Homo sapiens: one gene and its partners. The protein of the gene in region 1 interacts with the protein of each later gene in a biochemical or structural test. Each region holds a gene or a part of one and is shown on either strand. Other genes may lie near its edges.

The links. The genes of interacting proteins can lie anywhere in the genome.
Region 2: the proteins of PRKAR1A (region 1) and PATZ1 form a complex in vitro, tested with the Homo sapiens proteins (one study listed by BioGRID).
Region 3: the proteins of PRKAR1A (region 1) and PJA2 form a complex in vitro, tested with the Homo sapiens proteins (one study listed by BioGRID).

The regions. Positions count from the first base shown.
Region 1 is NC_000017.11:68,525,930-68,529,767, forward strand, and holds part of PRKAR1A (cAMP-dependent protein kinase type I-alpha regulatory subunit), read left to right. Parts: intron 1-1,910; coding exon 1,911-1,971; intron 1,972-2,940; coding exon 2,941-3,062; intron 3,063-3,838. UniProt on the Homo sapiens protein: Regulatory subunit of the cAMP-dependent protein kinases involved in cAMP signaling in cells.
Region 2 is NC_000022.11:31,328,614-31,333,997, forward strand, and holds part of PATZ1 (POZ-, AT hook-, and zinc finger-containing protein 1 isoform long C), read right to left. Parts: intron 312-5,384; coding exon 174-311; intron 1-173. UniProt on the Homo sapiens protein: Transcriptional regulator that plays a role in many biological processes such as embryogenesis, senescence, T-cell development or neurogenesis. Interacts with the TP53 protein to control genes that are important in proliferation and in the DNA-damage response.
Region 3 is NC_000005.10:109,399,242-109,404,625, reverse strand, and holds part of PJA2 (E3 ubiquitin-protein ligase Praja-2), read left to right. Parts: intron 1-5,384.

The DNA.
Region 1 (3,838 bases):
TTGAGAGTGTGATTTAGAATTCTCATCTACGTAACTAATGTTTGAATATTACCAAATTAAAAAGAGAATATTTCTTTTAATGAGCAAATATTTCTTTCTTTTAATAAGCGAATATTTTTCTTTTAATGAGCAAATACTTTGCATTAAGCCCAGCTTAGCATTATTCATTATGCCATTTTAGGCAGTGATATTTTAGAACAAAACCTTGGGAAACAAGATCTGGTATATATGTGCTGGTCATCTCATGTTTGGAAATCTATCCATTTGCTGGTAGGCACATCTTAATTTACCTAGTTATACCCATTACAGCATGATAGGTGCTGCTTTTAAGTGCTTAAAGTTATTTGGGGCCATTCAGAAATAATCAGCTTCCCTAACCTGTGAAAGTGGGTTATCAGTAATGTATATGTATGTCATGTCCCCTCTCGTTAAAGGAATAAACAAAATACTAAAACCATTGGAACTTTCTGGTGATAGTCAGATTTTTTGAGAACGTTGTGATAAATTTATAGGATAGCTTTGGATGTTTAAGTCTCAGCCAATGCATTGGTCATTTTTAATGGTTTTCTTAAATTTGTGCAGTGTCCATCTGACCATTTGAAAATGTACAGCCTGATGTACTTTGAAATTTTTCTGCATTTGGGATATATAGATAGATTAGATTAGATAGATAGTCTTGTCCTTCGCAGCAACATAGATAGAGCTGGAGGCCATTTTTCTAAGCAAAATAACACAGGAACAGAAAACCAAACCACATGTTCTCACTTACAGTTGGGAGCTAAGCAATGAGAACACGTGGATACTAGAAGGGGAACAACAAACACTGGGGCCTACTTGAGGGTGGAGGGTGGGAAGAGGGAGAGGATCAGGAAAAATACCTGTGGTGTACTTTACTTATTACCTGGGCAACAAAATTACCTGAACACCAAACCCCTGTGACACCCAGTTTACCTATATAACCTGCACATGTACCCCTGAACCTTAAACCCACACACACAAAAAAACGCTTATGGCAAAGATAAGTCTAAATTTTAGAAAGATTGGTTTTGAAGTGATGTGACAGTCTACTGGAGAAGAAACTGACCATACAGTTAGTTCTGCATTTCCTCTACAGGAATACTATTAGTAAAAGGAAACATAGAATGTTTACAGCTTTATCTCATTGTCAAAGAAGGAAGAGGTAGGACCTGGAACTATTGGTTTGAAATAAAATATTTTACTTTCTCATAGTGGGCCTGAAAGGAAATTAGGGCCTCACAATGCTTTGGCTTTGTGGACAGGAATTAGGAACTGTAGATATGGGGTGAAATATCTATATAGCTGGGTAGGGGAGGATATGGTCCTTTTTTTATAGAATAAAGACATGTCAATTGTATAGGTGAGAAGCCAGAACTAATGGAGGAATCTGCATTTAAATACCAGCGTTGAACAGGAAGAACACTAGGATTATTGGGTTGTAAATGACCTAGATTACTTTTGTGAGAAAATATTTTCAGAGATAAATTGGGTTGGCAGTGGCACAAAATCAGTTTGAGAGTAAACATGGAAATTGGACATTGGTTTAAAGTGTGTGGAAAAATATCTTGAGTGATAGGCTCAGGTATAAACCGGTATTTCGACTGTATTTGGAAGTTGGGAAATGCTTTGTGAAATATGTCAACATACTGGTTGCAAATGCTAGGAATTGGGCATAATATTGGCGGAAAATAAAAATCACAAGAATGTCATATCATTCATTACCTGTAAAATAAAAATGAATTAGTTAAAATTAAACTTTCCTCATTAAAAGCAACAAGCTTTGACTTTCTGGTTTTAAAATTTATTTGAAACTTAATATTTATTATTCCATAGCATTATGTGGTGATAATTACACGTCTTGGGGATATCACTTTTGTTATTTTTATTTTTAGGGAAGCACACTGAGAAAGCGGAAGATGTATGAGGAATTCCTTAGTAAAGTCTCTATTTTAGGTGAGTTGTAAAGTGTGTTAACTTTGCTAGTATGTGAGATACCCCTGAATTAGAATTGGATGGACTTGGGAAAAGCCTTCTGAAAGTATAATTGCTACTCATTCCCCCTGAAAAGACAGAAGGGCTGAAAGTCCTTCTGACTGTGGACATTCACAGTTATTTCCTCTGTGACTTCCCGTCTCTCTTGTTCCATCATTGAGTTGATTGGTTCAGAAAAGTGAGTACTTCCAACAATACATTTCCTCTGTGGAAAGATTAGGTATCATTTGCTGGCATCCTCTGAAAACATGCCAGAAGTTTGTTGAAATTTAGAGTAAAGCAGATTAATTGAAGATATTCTTTTGTGCATTTTGTTATGTGGACTTGGAGATGTTAGAACTTGTTCTTCATGAAAGGGGAATGGGGATTTTTATAAGGTAACAGGCTTCTGCCATTGTTTATTACAGTGAATTTTTCACCTCTTCTTTGTCTTTTCTTTGAATTGGTTACATATGCTTTGTGTTTTGGATAGTAGTTTGGCCTTTGGGAATAAAAGTTATTTTCTAGTTCTTTTTCATAAAGTAAACCAAGAATTTAAATAGATTAAATTATTTCTATGAAACTTTGGAACGATATGGATGGGGAAACTATGACTTTTGAGTATTGTAGTTGTAGGTTTGATTTGCATTGATGGCAATCTTCAGGAATACTTAAGGATTACATTTTCTTATTCCCTTGCCATTTGGTACAGTTGGTATAAATTAACCTAGCCACTGGGCTACCGAAGTAAGGATCTAAGGGCTATCTGCAGGCAGTATGAGAATCCTGCTCAGACTAGAGGTAATTGAAGACAGGTACCACTTTTAATCTGAGACACTACTAGAATGTTGAATGGGCATGGCTATTTGGTTGAATCTCTTTATACTTTCTTTTTACCTTTATAACAGCACCAAATAATACAGAGCAGTTATTTTGATTCTTGTCTTTCAGAGTCTCTGGACAAGTGGGAACGTCTTACGGTAGCTGATGCATTGGAACCAGTGCAGTTTGAAGATGGGCAGAAGATTGTGGTGCAGGGAGAACCAGGGGATGAGTTCTTCATTATTTTAGAGGTAAAGAACTCAGAATTTAATACTTGAATTTTAGAGGTAAAGAACTCAGAATTTAATACTTTAAAAAGTTGTACGCTCTAAGAGGGAAAGAGTGGGCTAATTCTGAACTATAGCTTTAGTTTTTAAGAATACCTGACCATTTTATTTTAAAATTATCTTTTACTTTGAAATGCTGTTGTTTGGTTTTCTGCCAGGTCACTATATTTTTAAATGAGTTTGAGTCAGAATTCTTGAAGGGCCCTAGACATGAAAAGCCAAATTCTAAAAACCATTTAACATAACAAACTGTGATGATTCTGCACTATTCTTGTTAAAATGCAAGTGTTTGGGCTATTTGGCAAATAAGGATTAAAGGTAATTATTTAAATTTGAAAAATTACTGTGTTTGTATATCTCCACATTCCATGGAAATGTATAGCAGATACTCTTGCTAAGCGGATCCAAGTGGCAGATTTCTATGAATGTGGCTCCATAGTTGCTAATTGATTTTATTTAAATCAGGGGTCAGGAGACTGTAAAGGGCCAGGTGGTAAGTAAGTTAAGCTTTGTGGACCATAGGGTTTCATTCGCAAAGTCTCAACTCTTGTCATAGTGCAAAAGCAGCCACAAATAATATGTAAATGAATGTATGTGGTATTTCAGTAAAGTTTGATTTGCGAAAGAGACAGTGAGCTTGGATTTAGCCCTTCATCTACAGTTTGCTAACCCAAGTGTGCACCCTTTAAGCACCTTAGCTTGATACGAAGAACCTCGCTAGCAGGAGATGCTGGTAAAAT
Region 2 (5,384 bases), on another chromosome or scaffold:
GGAGTGAGATACCCACTGTGACTTTTGTCCTGGAGGCCACTGCCACTCAGATCTCTGAGTCTCCTCAAGGCAGCCAGAAAGCCGGCAGCCTTCCCGCCTCCCCACGCCCAGCCCAGCGCCCCCACAACACAGTCTGCGCAGAGAAGCAAAGTGCAGAGCAAGGGGTCGCTTGCCTTTGTTGCCATAGGTCCTGGCGCAGTGGAACGCTGCTCCCCCATTCAGGATGGGCTCCTGGTGCCTGGAGACCTGGGGAAGGGGAACACCGTGGTGGGTTTTAACATGGACCTTTAAGTAGGAGGCAGAGGAGAAACCTAAACAAGACAAAAGGAGATGAGATCCCGCGGCCAGCAAGAGATACCTCTCTCCTTCCCCCAACTCCTCTCCTCTGGCCGCTCTGGCTAGCATTCCCAGGTCAGCTGCACCTAGAAGGGGCCCCCTCCTGGCTCAAAAATGGCTGCAACCACATGAGCCATGTGACTCAGGATGGAGGGTGGCACTGTCCACAAATCGGCTTCTCTGCAGAGCCCACTCTGCAAGGCTGCGGTGAGGGGCTGAGGCTGGCTGCCTGGTGGGATGGCCTGAGATCCTGCTCCTGCTAGGGCCAGAGGCCAACTGCCTCTAGGGTTGCTTGGTGCCTCAGTAACAGGTGGTTTGAGTGGATGTCTCCTGCAGGAACCATGACTAGAAATGTGGTTAGACAAGAATTTGAGGCTCCAGGGAAGCCACAGGATTCTAGCCAGCAGGATGCCTGCTTAATCCTCGTAAAAGGAAACTGGACAACAAACGAGATGGAGGTAAAATGAAATCCCAAAGGAACGCCTCCAAGGATCCCGTCTTCTACCTGTCAGGAGATGTTCTATTTTTCTAACTTCCCCACCTTCAGCATAACAGGATTTAGTAACTGTTTAGACCTTTTGAAGAACAAAGACAAAAATAGGAAGTTGTGTCAGAGGAGTGCAGTCATCTCTTATTCATGGTAGTGTTTTGGTTCGATTTTGGAGCATCCACCAGGTTCGCGTACAGGAGAAGAAACACGGATGATCTCTGTCTTTATTTTGGGGGAGGACAATCCGGCCTTCTTGGGACTGTTCCAGCCCACCTCCCAGATGCTTCGGTCAGTCTGATCCACGAGATATCTCAGGCTGGGAAGAACACATCTTGGGCCAACTTCCACAGCAGCCATGCGTCCAAGGATACAGAATCAGGCAGGCCGATAAAAGGATTTTGACTTGGGTTTCACAGGAAGGAGGTATGCCATCAAACCCCACTGTAGTCAAGGATCAGAAGGTGCTTTTAGCAGGAACTGAAGCTTTTTAGTATAAGGCCCACTTAGGGTGCCAGCACCCTGACAGTGTCCCTTTAATCCACTTCAGATCTGGTTGACTCATCATCAGGTGTTTCCATTCACTTTCAAAATTACACAGTCACAGGATAACAGTGAGATCCACTGCTAAAGGGTAAAGGGTCAGAGGCTGAAGAGTACTGTGTAATGTCTGCATGAGATTTGTTTTAAAAAAGTCTGAATTGGCATGGTATTTTGAATGCTGCTGGAACTGTAATAAAGGTTCACCTTTAGGAAGTGCTGATGGCACACCAGGGCCCAGCACACCGCATGCACTATTCTATAGAATTTGCCCAACACCCTTTGTGCTACAGATTACTATTATACCCATTTTACAGATAAAGAAATAAGAGGCTTTGTGAGGTTAGGGAGGCTGAGGTGGGCAGATCACGAGGTCAGGAGATCGAGACCATCCTGGCTAACACAGTGAAACCCCGTCTCTACTAAAAATATAAAAAATTAGCTGGGCGTGGTAGCAGGCACCTGTAAGCTGAGATCATGCCACTGCGCTCCAGCCTGGGCAACAGAGCGAGACTCCGTCTCAAAAAAAAAAGAGGCTTGGTGAGGTTAAGTAACCTGGTCACACGTACAGCTACTGAGTGGCAGAGCCTGGACTCCAACCCCAGGATCATGTGCCACCAGAACTTGGCCCTTAGCTACTGGGCAGATGCTTTAACCCACTTATGCCTCATGTTCCATTATTGGGACGCTAACCTTTTAGGAATTATTTGTATCCTACTGCTCAAGATCATCATTAAAGTCTGATTTTTCACAAAAAAGTTTGTAACCTCCAGCATAAATGGGTTAATTGGTTCCTGTGTCTTAGCCCTGAGCCCTAGAAATATCCAGTGGACTTTTACAATAGGTTTCATTATTACCATTTACACTCATGTATTTTTCGACCATAATGGTATGTTAGAATGGAAGCTGCTGGAAAAACAGGGCTGGCCTGTGGGAACTTTATTTAACAAGTTCTCCTCTGACAGCAGCAGTTAGTGGTTCTGAAGGGAAATGTGGGATTGGGCCAATTTTCCTTCCTTTCCCAATACAGCTACTTCAAAGATCTGTCTAGACCAGGTGCTGGTGTCCTGCCCTGCCTGGTAGAGCAAGTTGTCCTGTGCTATGACCGCAGTGGTCTGCCTGAGGCTGATCATGGGTATAGATTGGTGTAAGAGGGTCCCATGTAGACATCCCTAAGAGGGAGGCTGTAGTCAGGAGTGAGGAGACAAGGCTAATGGGAAAGAGGCTGTTAGCCCTGCCCCTTGGGGTGGTACTGTAGAGTCCCCTAAAACAAAGCAGAACCAGGAGACATTGGCTCCCACCAATCAGTACAAGATATTAGAACTTTCTGATAATATGATGATACCACTTTAGAAGGTAATTTTTTCCTTTTTTTTTTTTTTTGAGACAGAGTCTCACTCTCGCTCAGGCTGGAGTGCAGTGGCACCATCTCGGCTCACTGCAAGCTCCGCCTCCAGGGTTCATGCCATTCTCCTGCCTCAGCCTCCCTGGTAGCTGGGACTACAGGCGCCCGCCACCATACCTGGCTAATTTTTTTTGTATTTTTAGTAGAGACGGGGTTTCACCATGTTAGCCAGGATGGTCTCGGATCTCCTGACTTCGCGATCCACCCGCCTCGGCCTCCCAAAGTGCTGGGATTACAGGCGTGAGCCACCGTGCCCGGCCTTTCCTTAGTTTTTTAATCCCTTGTGGGGTCTCTAAAATAGCATGAAGCTCTCTCCCTGTGATGAACCAGAGCAGGTCCACTGCAATCAAAAGGGGACAGAAAGGAGCGGGAGAGCACCAGGAATTATTATGTTTACTCCTTACTGGGAGAGCTATACCAAGAGAACACAGCAGATGCTCAATAAAAACTTGCTGAGTTTGGCTGGGCGCAGTGGCTCATGCACTTTGGGAGGCCGAGGCAGGCAGATCACCTGAGGTTGGGAGTTCCGGACCAGCCTGACCAACATGGAGAAACCCTGTCTCTACTAAAAATACAAAATTAGCCGGGCGTGGTGGTGCATGCCTGTAATCCCAGCTAACTAGGGAGGCTGAGGAAGGAGAATCGCTTGAACCAAGGAGGTGGAGGTTGTGATGAGCTGAGATCGCGCCATTGCACTCCAGTCTGGGCAACAACAGCGAAACTGTCTTGCTGAGTTTTCCTGAAAAACAGTCTTAGAAACACGTGGCTGAGTCCTCTTGACTTTACCCCAGCTGCAGACTGTACTATCTATAGCAAAACCACATGGCGGGGTGGTAGGAGTGGATCCACAGCTGCCACTTAAAGCCTAGAATTTAAACACAGAGCAACTCAGCAGCCAAGTGTTAGGATGAAACAGAAGCTGAGCTTCTGAGCAGAATACGTCTTTGAAGCCAGACATATTTAGCCGGAATTCTAAACTTACCCACCCATTCACCACTGATTAACCAAGATCCAAAGAGGCAGCTTGATCCAGCCATCCACGCAATGGAGATGCTGAGCACACATATGACTGCCACTACAACCAACAAGCCACCGGCCCTTTCACTCCAGAGACGATGGTCTTATTAGCAAAAGGCCACTGCTCCTCAGTTGCATTTTCTTGCCTGGTGTGCCTGCACTTGGCACTCCAGAAGCAAATCATCCTTTGGCAGGTTCCACATCAATGCAGGGGTTGGGGACTGCTTTCTCCTTGTCCAAACCCTGAAGGGGCCATTCCCAACTGCACTGTGTTGGAGTGGGCCTACATAGCTTGATGTGAGTCCAGGGGAACAGCAGGTTCCCTGCATCCATCCACTTGTGTGCTTACCTCTGACTGGGGAGAAGGCTTCCTCTACCTTTCAAGCAATGATGTTTGCATTCAAATGTCTCTGTCAAAGGCGGATTCCTGATAATCTGTTCCTCTTCACCATACCAGCACATAGGCATATATACAAAGATCCTGCTACAGAAACTTTAAAGGAAGAAAATCATGGTGATCAGCCAGGGCCTTCTCCCTTTTCCACTGTTCAACTCAACTGATTTCCTCAACTCAAAAATGTGGGAACAAGCTTTTCTAGCCATAATACTCCCTCCACTGCAAATGATCTTCCTGTACAAATAGTATCATACACATCCTGATATGTCTGTATGACAAAGCCAGAGTCATCTGTCTCTTCAACTTGCATCTGACTCACGTGTGAGGCTGCAGGAGTCAGGCTGCCTTTCCTCTTTGCCATTCTTCACAGCCAGGAGTCATTTTTGTGGCAAAAATTGAAAAAGACAGATCTATAGGTAGATACTTAAGTCAACTATTTAAGAATTGTTGGGATTGAAGGATCTGAGGGCACCTGGAAGTTCACCTGATTCAATCTTAACTGTTCTGACATTCAGCCTTTGTTTGAACACATGCAGAGATAAGAACATTCGTTTATTCGTGCAACCCCTCCTGTAGGTACAGGCTTGGTGGCAGCAGGGCAAAGGAGGACACAGAGCTCTCTGCATTTTGATTCCAATGTCTCAATGTTTTTGGTGCTCAGAAAGAACTTTATCCTCTTCCTTTTTTTTTTTTTTTTTTTTTGTCTCTTCCTATTTCTGCCCAAGGAATGAGTCCAGGAGTAGAATCCTGCTCCTTCTCTTCTGATAAAAACTGCAATTGTTTTCTCTTCTTTCTGAGTACCCAGCATGGGTTGGACCAGCACCTTCTTTAGTCTTCTTGCAGGAAAGGGACTTCCCGCTCTGGCTCTGGAACCCAGAGATGTTTGGCCTGTGATCCAGACCCAGTCTTGGCTTTTCTGAGAAAAAGTAGACTCTGGTTTACTCTTCTGGATTCTCCATTCCGGTCATGTAGCTTATGGCTGTTGCCCAAGTTCTCTTTACTAGCCCTTGGAAAATAAATCCTGATGTACAATAGTTGTTGGCTTTGCCACATCAGCTGCTTCCTTACTGGGCCAACTTTCCCACTGTCCCTGCTGCTCTCAGTTTTTCTCTCCTCCTGAGCTGGGCTTCAAGGGCTGTAGCCCTGGGTCTCCTGTCCAGTTTCTGCCCTACTCCACCATCTGGTCTGGGCTTTCTGAGTTT
Region 3 (5,384 bases), on another chromosome or scaffold:
CAGGAAGTGGCTCTCACCAAACGCTGAATCTACCAGCACCTTGATTTTGGACTTCCCAGCCTCCAGAACTGTGAAAAATAAATTTCTTTTATTTTTATTTCTATTTTTTTTTGACAGAGTCTTGCTCTGTCGGCTAGGCTGGAGTGCAGTGGCAGTCTCAGCTCGCTGCAACCTCGGTCTCCCAGGCTCAAGCAATTCTGCCTCAGCCTCCCGAGTAGCTGGGATTACAGGCGTATGTCACCATGCCTGGCTAATTTTTGTATTTTTAGTAGAGACGGGGTTTTACCATGTTGGCCAGGCTGGTCTCAAACTCCTTACCTCAGGTAATCCACCTGCCTTGGCCTCCCAAAGTGCTGGAATTACAGGTGTGAGCCACCGCGCCCAGCCGAGAAATAAATTTCTGTTGTTTATAAGCCACTTCAGTCTATGGGAGCTTGTTATAGGAGTCCTAATGGACTAAGACAAGTGGCCTTTTATCATATTGAGGATGTTCCCATTCTATTCTTGGATTGCTGAGAGGTTTTTGTTGTTGTTGTTGTTGTTGTTGTTGTTTTTGAGATGGAGTCTTGCTCTGTTGCCCAGGCTGGAGGGCAGTGGCACCATCTCAGCTCACTACAGCCTCCGCCTCCTGGGTTCAAGTGATTCTTCTGCCTCAGCCCCCTGAGTAGCTGGGATTACAGGTACACGCCACCAAGCCTGGCTAACTTTTTTGTATTTTTGTAGAAATGGGGTTTTACCATGTTGGCCAGGCTGGTCTTGAACTCCTCACCTCGTGATCTGCCCGCCTTGGCCCCCCAAAGTGTTGGGATTACAGGCATGAGCCACTGCGCCTGGCAGAGAGTTTTTTTTTTTTTTTTTTTTAAATCATGAGTGGATGTTGATTTTAGTCAGGTATTATTACTGTATTTATTGAGATGATCATATGGTTTGTTTCTGTGTTAATGTGATGAATTACGTTAACTTATTTGCGAATGTTGAATCATCTTCCATTCTGTGGTTAAACCTCACTTGGTGATGGTGTATTATCTACTATCATTTTTATAAATTGGTGAAATTTTTTTTTTTTTTGCATCTATGTTCATGAAAGATACTTTTTCATATAATGCTGGTTTCATAGAGTTGCAAAGTGTTTCTTATATTTTTGAAAAAGAATTTATTAGGATTAGTATTATTTGTTTTACAATTTTTTTTAGAGTTTGCATGTGAACTCTTCTGGTCCTAGAGTTTTCTTTGCTGGAAGGCTTCAAAGGATAAGTCCAATTATCCTTTAATAAATACAGGATTATTAGGGTTATCTATTTCTTCTTGAAAGCTTTCGGTCTTTGTATGAATCACTTTCACTCACTAAGTGAGCGTTAGTAGTTTTTGTCTTTCAAGGCATTTGTCTTATTTCATTTATTCGTTGTCATAAAGTTGTTTCTTAATTATTTTAATGCCTATAACGTCTGTAGTGGTGTCTTTCCTTTCATTCTTGTTATTAGCAGTGTGACCTCTCATTTTTATTTGGTTCTAGGTTTATTTTATTAATCTTTTCAGAGTCAACTTTTTATTTGATTGCTTTTTTTTTAATTGTTAGTTTTATTGATTTCTGCTTCTTACTATTTCTTTCTATATGCTTTGGGTTTAAATTCCTCTATGTTAATTTATTAAGGTGTAAGCTTAGGTCATTGACTTGAGACCTTTTTTCTTTTCCTTCCAAGCACTGCCTGAGGTGCTTACACAAATTTGATGCACTGATTTTTTTTAAAGTTCTTATGTCACTTCCACTTTGACCCATGAAGGTTGCTGTTTAATTTCCAAATATTTGGTGATTTTGCATGTCTCTTTCTTTGTATAATTTATTTTAAATTCTTTGATATTTGTTTTATGACCAGAATATGGTTACTCTCAGTAAATGTCCCATGTACACTTCAAAATAATGTGTATTCTGCTGTTTAGCAGTGGAGTATTCTATATCAAGTTGATTGATGATGCTTGTTAGGCCTTCTCTTTCCTTACTGAGTTTTTGTTTGTTTCATTGATCATTGAGAGAAGAGTTGAAGTCTCCAAGTATAATGGTAAGTTTGTTTATTTCTCCTTTTCAGTTTTTGCATCATGTGTATTGAACCTCCTGTTAGGTGCATGTAAATTTAGGATTGTTAAAACTTTTTGGTGAATGAACCCCTTAATCATTATATAATGCCCTCTTTATCTCTGATAGTATTCCTCATTCCAAAGTCTACTTTATCTAATATTAATACAGCCTCTCCAGCCTCCTTTTAGTGTTTGTATATTATTTTCCATCCATTTAATCTGTCTTTTATTTAAAATGGGTTTGTTCTAGACAGCCTTTTTTAATTCATCTTGAAAAATCTGTTTTTACATTGAAGTGTTTAGACTATTTACATTTAATGTAATTTTGATGTAGTTGGATTTAAATATACAATCTTAATTGTTTTCTACTTATGTGCTCTCTGATGCCTATTTTTGAGTGCATTTTATCTTCACCATTGGCTCACTACTTACACTCAACTTTTCCTCTCTTTTAAAAAGTTAATTGGCTTCTCTGTGATTTATATTTTACATCTTTAATAATAGACCATATGGAAGCAATACTATACCACATTTTATATAGTGTCAGAGCTTTACAACAGTATATTTACAATGTATATTTACAATTTCTCCTTATCTTTTGTGCTATTACTGTTTTACCTTTTACAAATGCCATAAATGCATAATACCTTGTAATATTTGTTTTATTCCTGTGCTGTCTAGTATGGTAGTCATTAGCCAGTGTAGCTATTTAAATTTGAATTTAAAGTAGTTAGTACAAGTTAAATTAAAATTGATTTTCTGTGTTATAGTGGCCTCTTTTCCAGTGCTTATTCTTTCTGCATGAAGAACTTCCTTTCACATTTCTTGGACTTCAATTCTACTGGTAACAAAGTTCCAAAGATTGTTTCACAAATACTTTGTTTCACTTTTTCTTTTGAAAGATTTTGCTGGATATAAATTTATTGTTCACAGTGTTTTTCTAATATTAAGGATGCTATTTATTATCTTTTGACTTGCACAGTTTCAAATAAGAATTTGGCTGTGATTCTTATTTAGTTCCTTTTTTCTGCTGTCAGTATCAAATATGTTTTATCAGTGGTTTTTAAATTTTATTTTATTTGTTGTTTTTTTTTGAGACAAGGTCTCGCTCTGTTGCCCAAGTGGAGTGCAGTGGTACAAGCTTGTCTCACTATAGCCTTGAGCTTCTAGACTCAAGCAATTCTCCCACCTTAGCCTCCAAAAATCCTGCATTTGCAGGCCTGAGCCACTGTGCCCAGGCTGTCATTGGTGGTGGTAGCGGTTGTTTTTGAGACAGAGTCTCACTCTGTCGCCCAGGTTGGAGTGCAATGGCGCCATCTCAGCTCACTGCAACCTCTACCTCCCGGGTTCAAGTGATTCTCATGCCTCAGTCTCCCAAGTATCTGCGATCACAGGCTCCCGCCACTACGTCTGGCTAATTTTTGTATTTAACAGGGTTTCACCATGTTGGCCATGCTAGTCTCAAACTCCTGGCCTCAAGTGGTCTGCCCTCCTTGGCCTCCCAAAGTGCTGGGATTACAGGCATGTGTCATTTGGTTTTTTTGTTGTTGTTGTTTTGTTTTTTGTTTTTGAGACAGAGTCTTGCTTTGTCTCCCAGGCTGGAGTGCAGTGGCGCCATCTCGGCTCACTGCAAGCTCTGCCTCCCAGGTTCATGCCAGTCTCCTGCCTCAGCCTCCTGAGTAACTGGGGCTACAGGCACCCGCAACCATGCCTGGCTAATTTTTTTTGTATTTTTTTAGTAGAGACGGGGTTTCACCATGTTAGCCAGGATGGTCTCAATCTCCTGACCTCGTGATCCACCTGCCTCTGCCTCCCAAAGTGCTGGAATTACAGGTGTGAGCCACCATGCCCGGCCATATCATTCGTTTTTTATAGCAGGTTAAAGATGTTAACATCTTGGGATATGTGTACATTTTTGTGTGTTTTGTATTTATACTGCTTTTGTAGGGGGGAATCACTGAGCTTCTTGGGATTTATGATCTTTTAAATAATGTATGAAAAATTCACAGCATCTTTCTCTTCTAATGTTTCCACTGCCCGCGACACCCCCCCGCCCTTCCCCCCCCTCCCCCTGCTGGTTTGCTCTCTTTTTGTGGGGTTCCAGTTAAACTCATGGCAGCTCATTTAATGCAGTCCACAATTCTTGGAGGCTCTGTTTTGGTTTTTGTTGCTGTTGTTTTTTAACATGTTTCTTTTCAGTTAAATCACTTTTTATCTAGGCTTGGATCATTTCTTTTGACTTATCTTTTTCTTTTTTTTTTTTTGAGACAGTCTCAGTCCATCACCCAGACTGGAGTGCAGTGGTGTGATCTTGGCTCACTGCAACCTCTGCCTCCCGACTTCAAGCGATTCTCCGTACCTCAGCCTCCTGAGTAGCTGGAATTATGGGCGTGCACCACCACGTCTCACTAATTTTTTGTATTTTTAGTAGAGACGGGTATCACTATGTTGGTCAGGCTGATCTTGAACTCCTGACCTAAAGTGATCCACCCATCTTGGCCTCCCAAATTGCTGGGATTACAGGTGTGAGCCACTGAGCCTGGCCTGATTTATCTTGAGCTCACTAAAAGCTTCCTCCCCTAGTTTTTTAATGAGCCCATAGAATGCATTCTTCATTTCTGTTAACTGTTTTTTATTTTTTGCATTTCCATTTTCATCTCTCCTGAAATTTCTCATGAGTTGATGCATGTTCCTACCTTTGTGCTAGAGCCTTTAAAAGGGTAATCATAGTTATTTTAATTTTCTTCTCTGATAATTCTGTTAATTGCTTTATCTGGTTCTGTTTGTTGTTGTCTCTTGATAAAGAGGGTTTTTTCCTCCTCAGCTTTTTTGTCTTGTAATTTTTGACTGAATGGCAGACTTTATATGCAGAACAGTAGAGATTGTGGCAAATAATTCTTATGTCTGGATGTGAGTCTGCTTCTGCATCTGCTAGGCTTTTAGTGTGGTGTGGGGTTGATTCAATCTAATTCGTGATTGAGATGGGTTTGGATTTCGTTTCTGTGGTTGCATTGTGCTTAGTGTTACCTTGTGCTTAGTGTGACAGCTGAAGTGCCTGATTTTTCTAAGTGTTCCTACTTCACTGTCAACTTTCAGCTTTCTCTGTGTGCCCATACCTCAGTGGAGAAGTTTCTCCACACACTGTCATTATCCCCAGCAGTAGACTGTTGTTTCTTGATGCTGACTAGCCTGGAGATGGAGGCAGAGTTTTCTCTGTCTTCCTTATCTGTACTCAGTGTTACACAAGCCCTTTGTCTCTTGTTTTTGGGTATGGGCCAATGATGCTGTACCTTCTCTCCATGGTAGCCAAA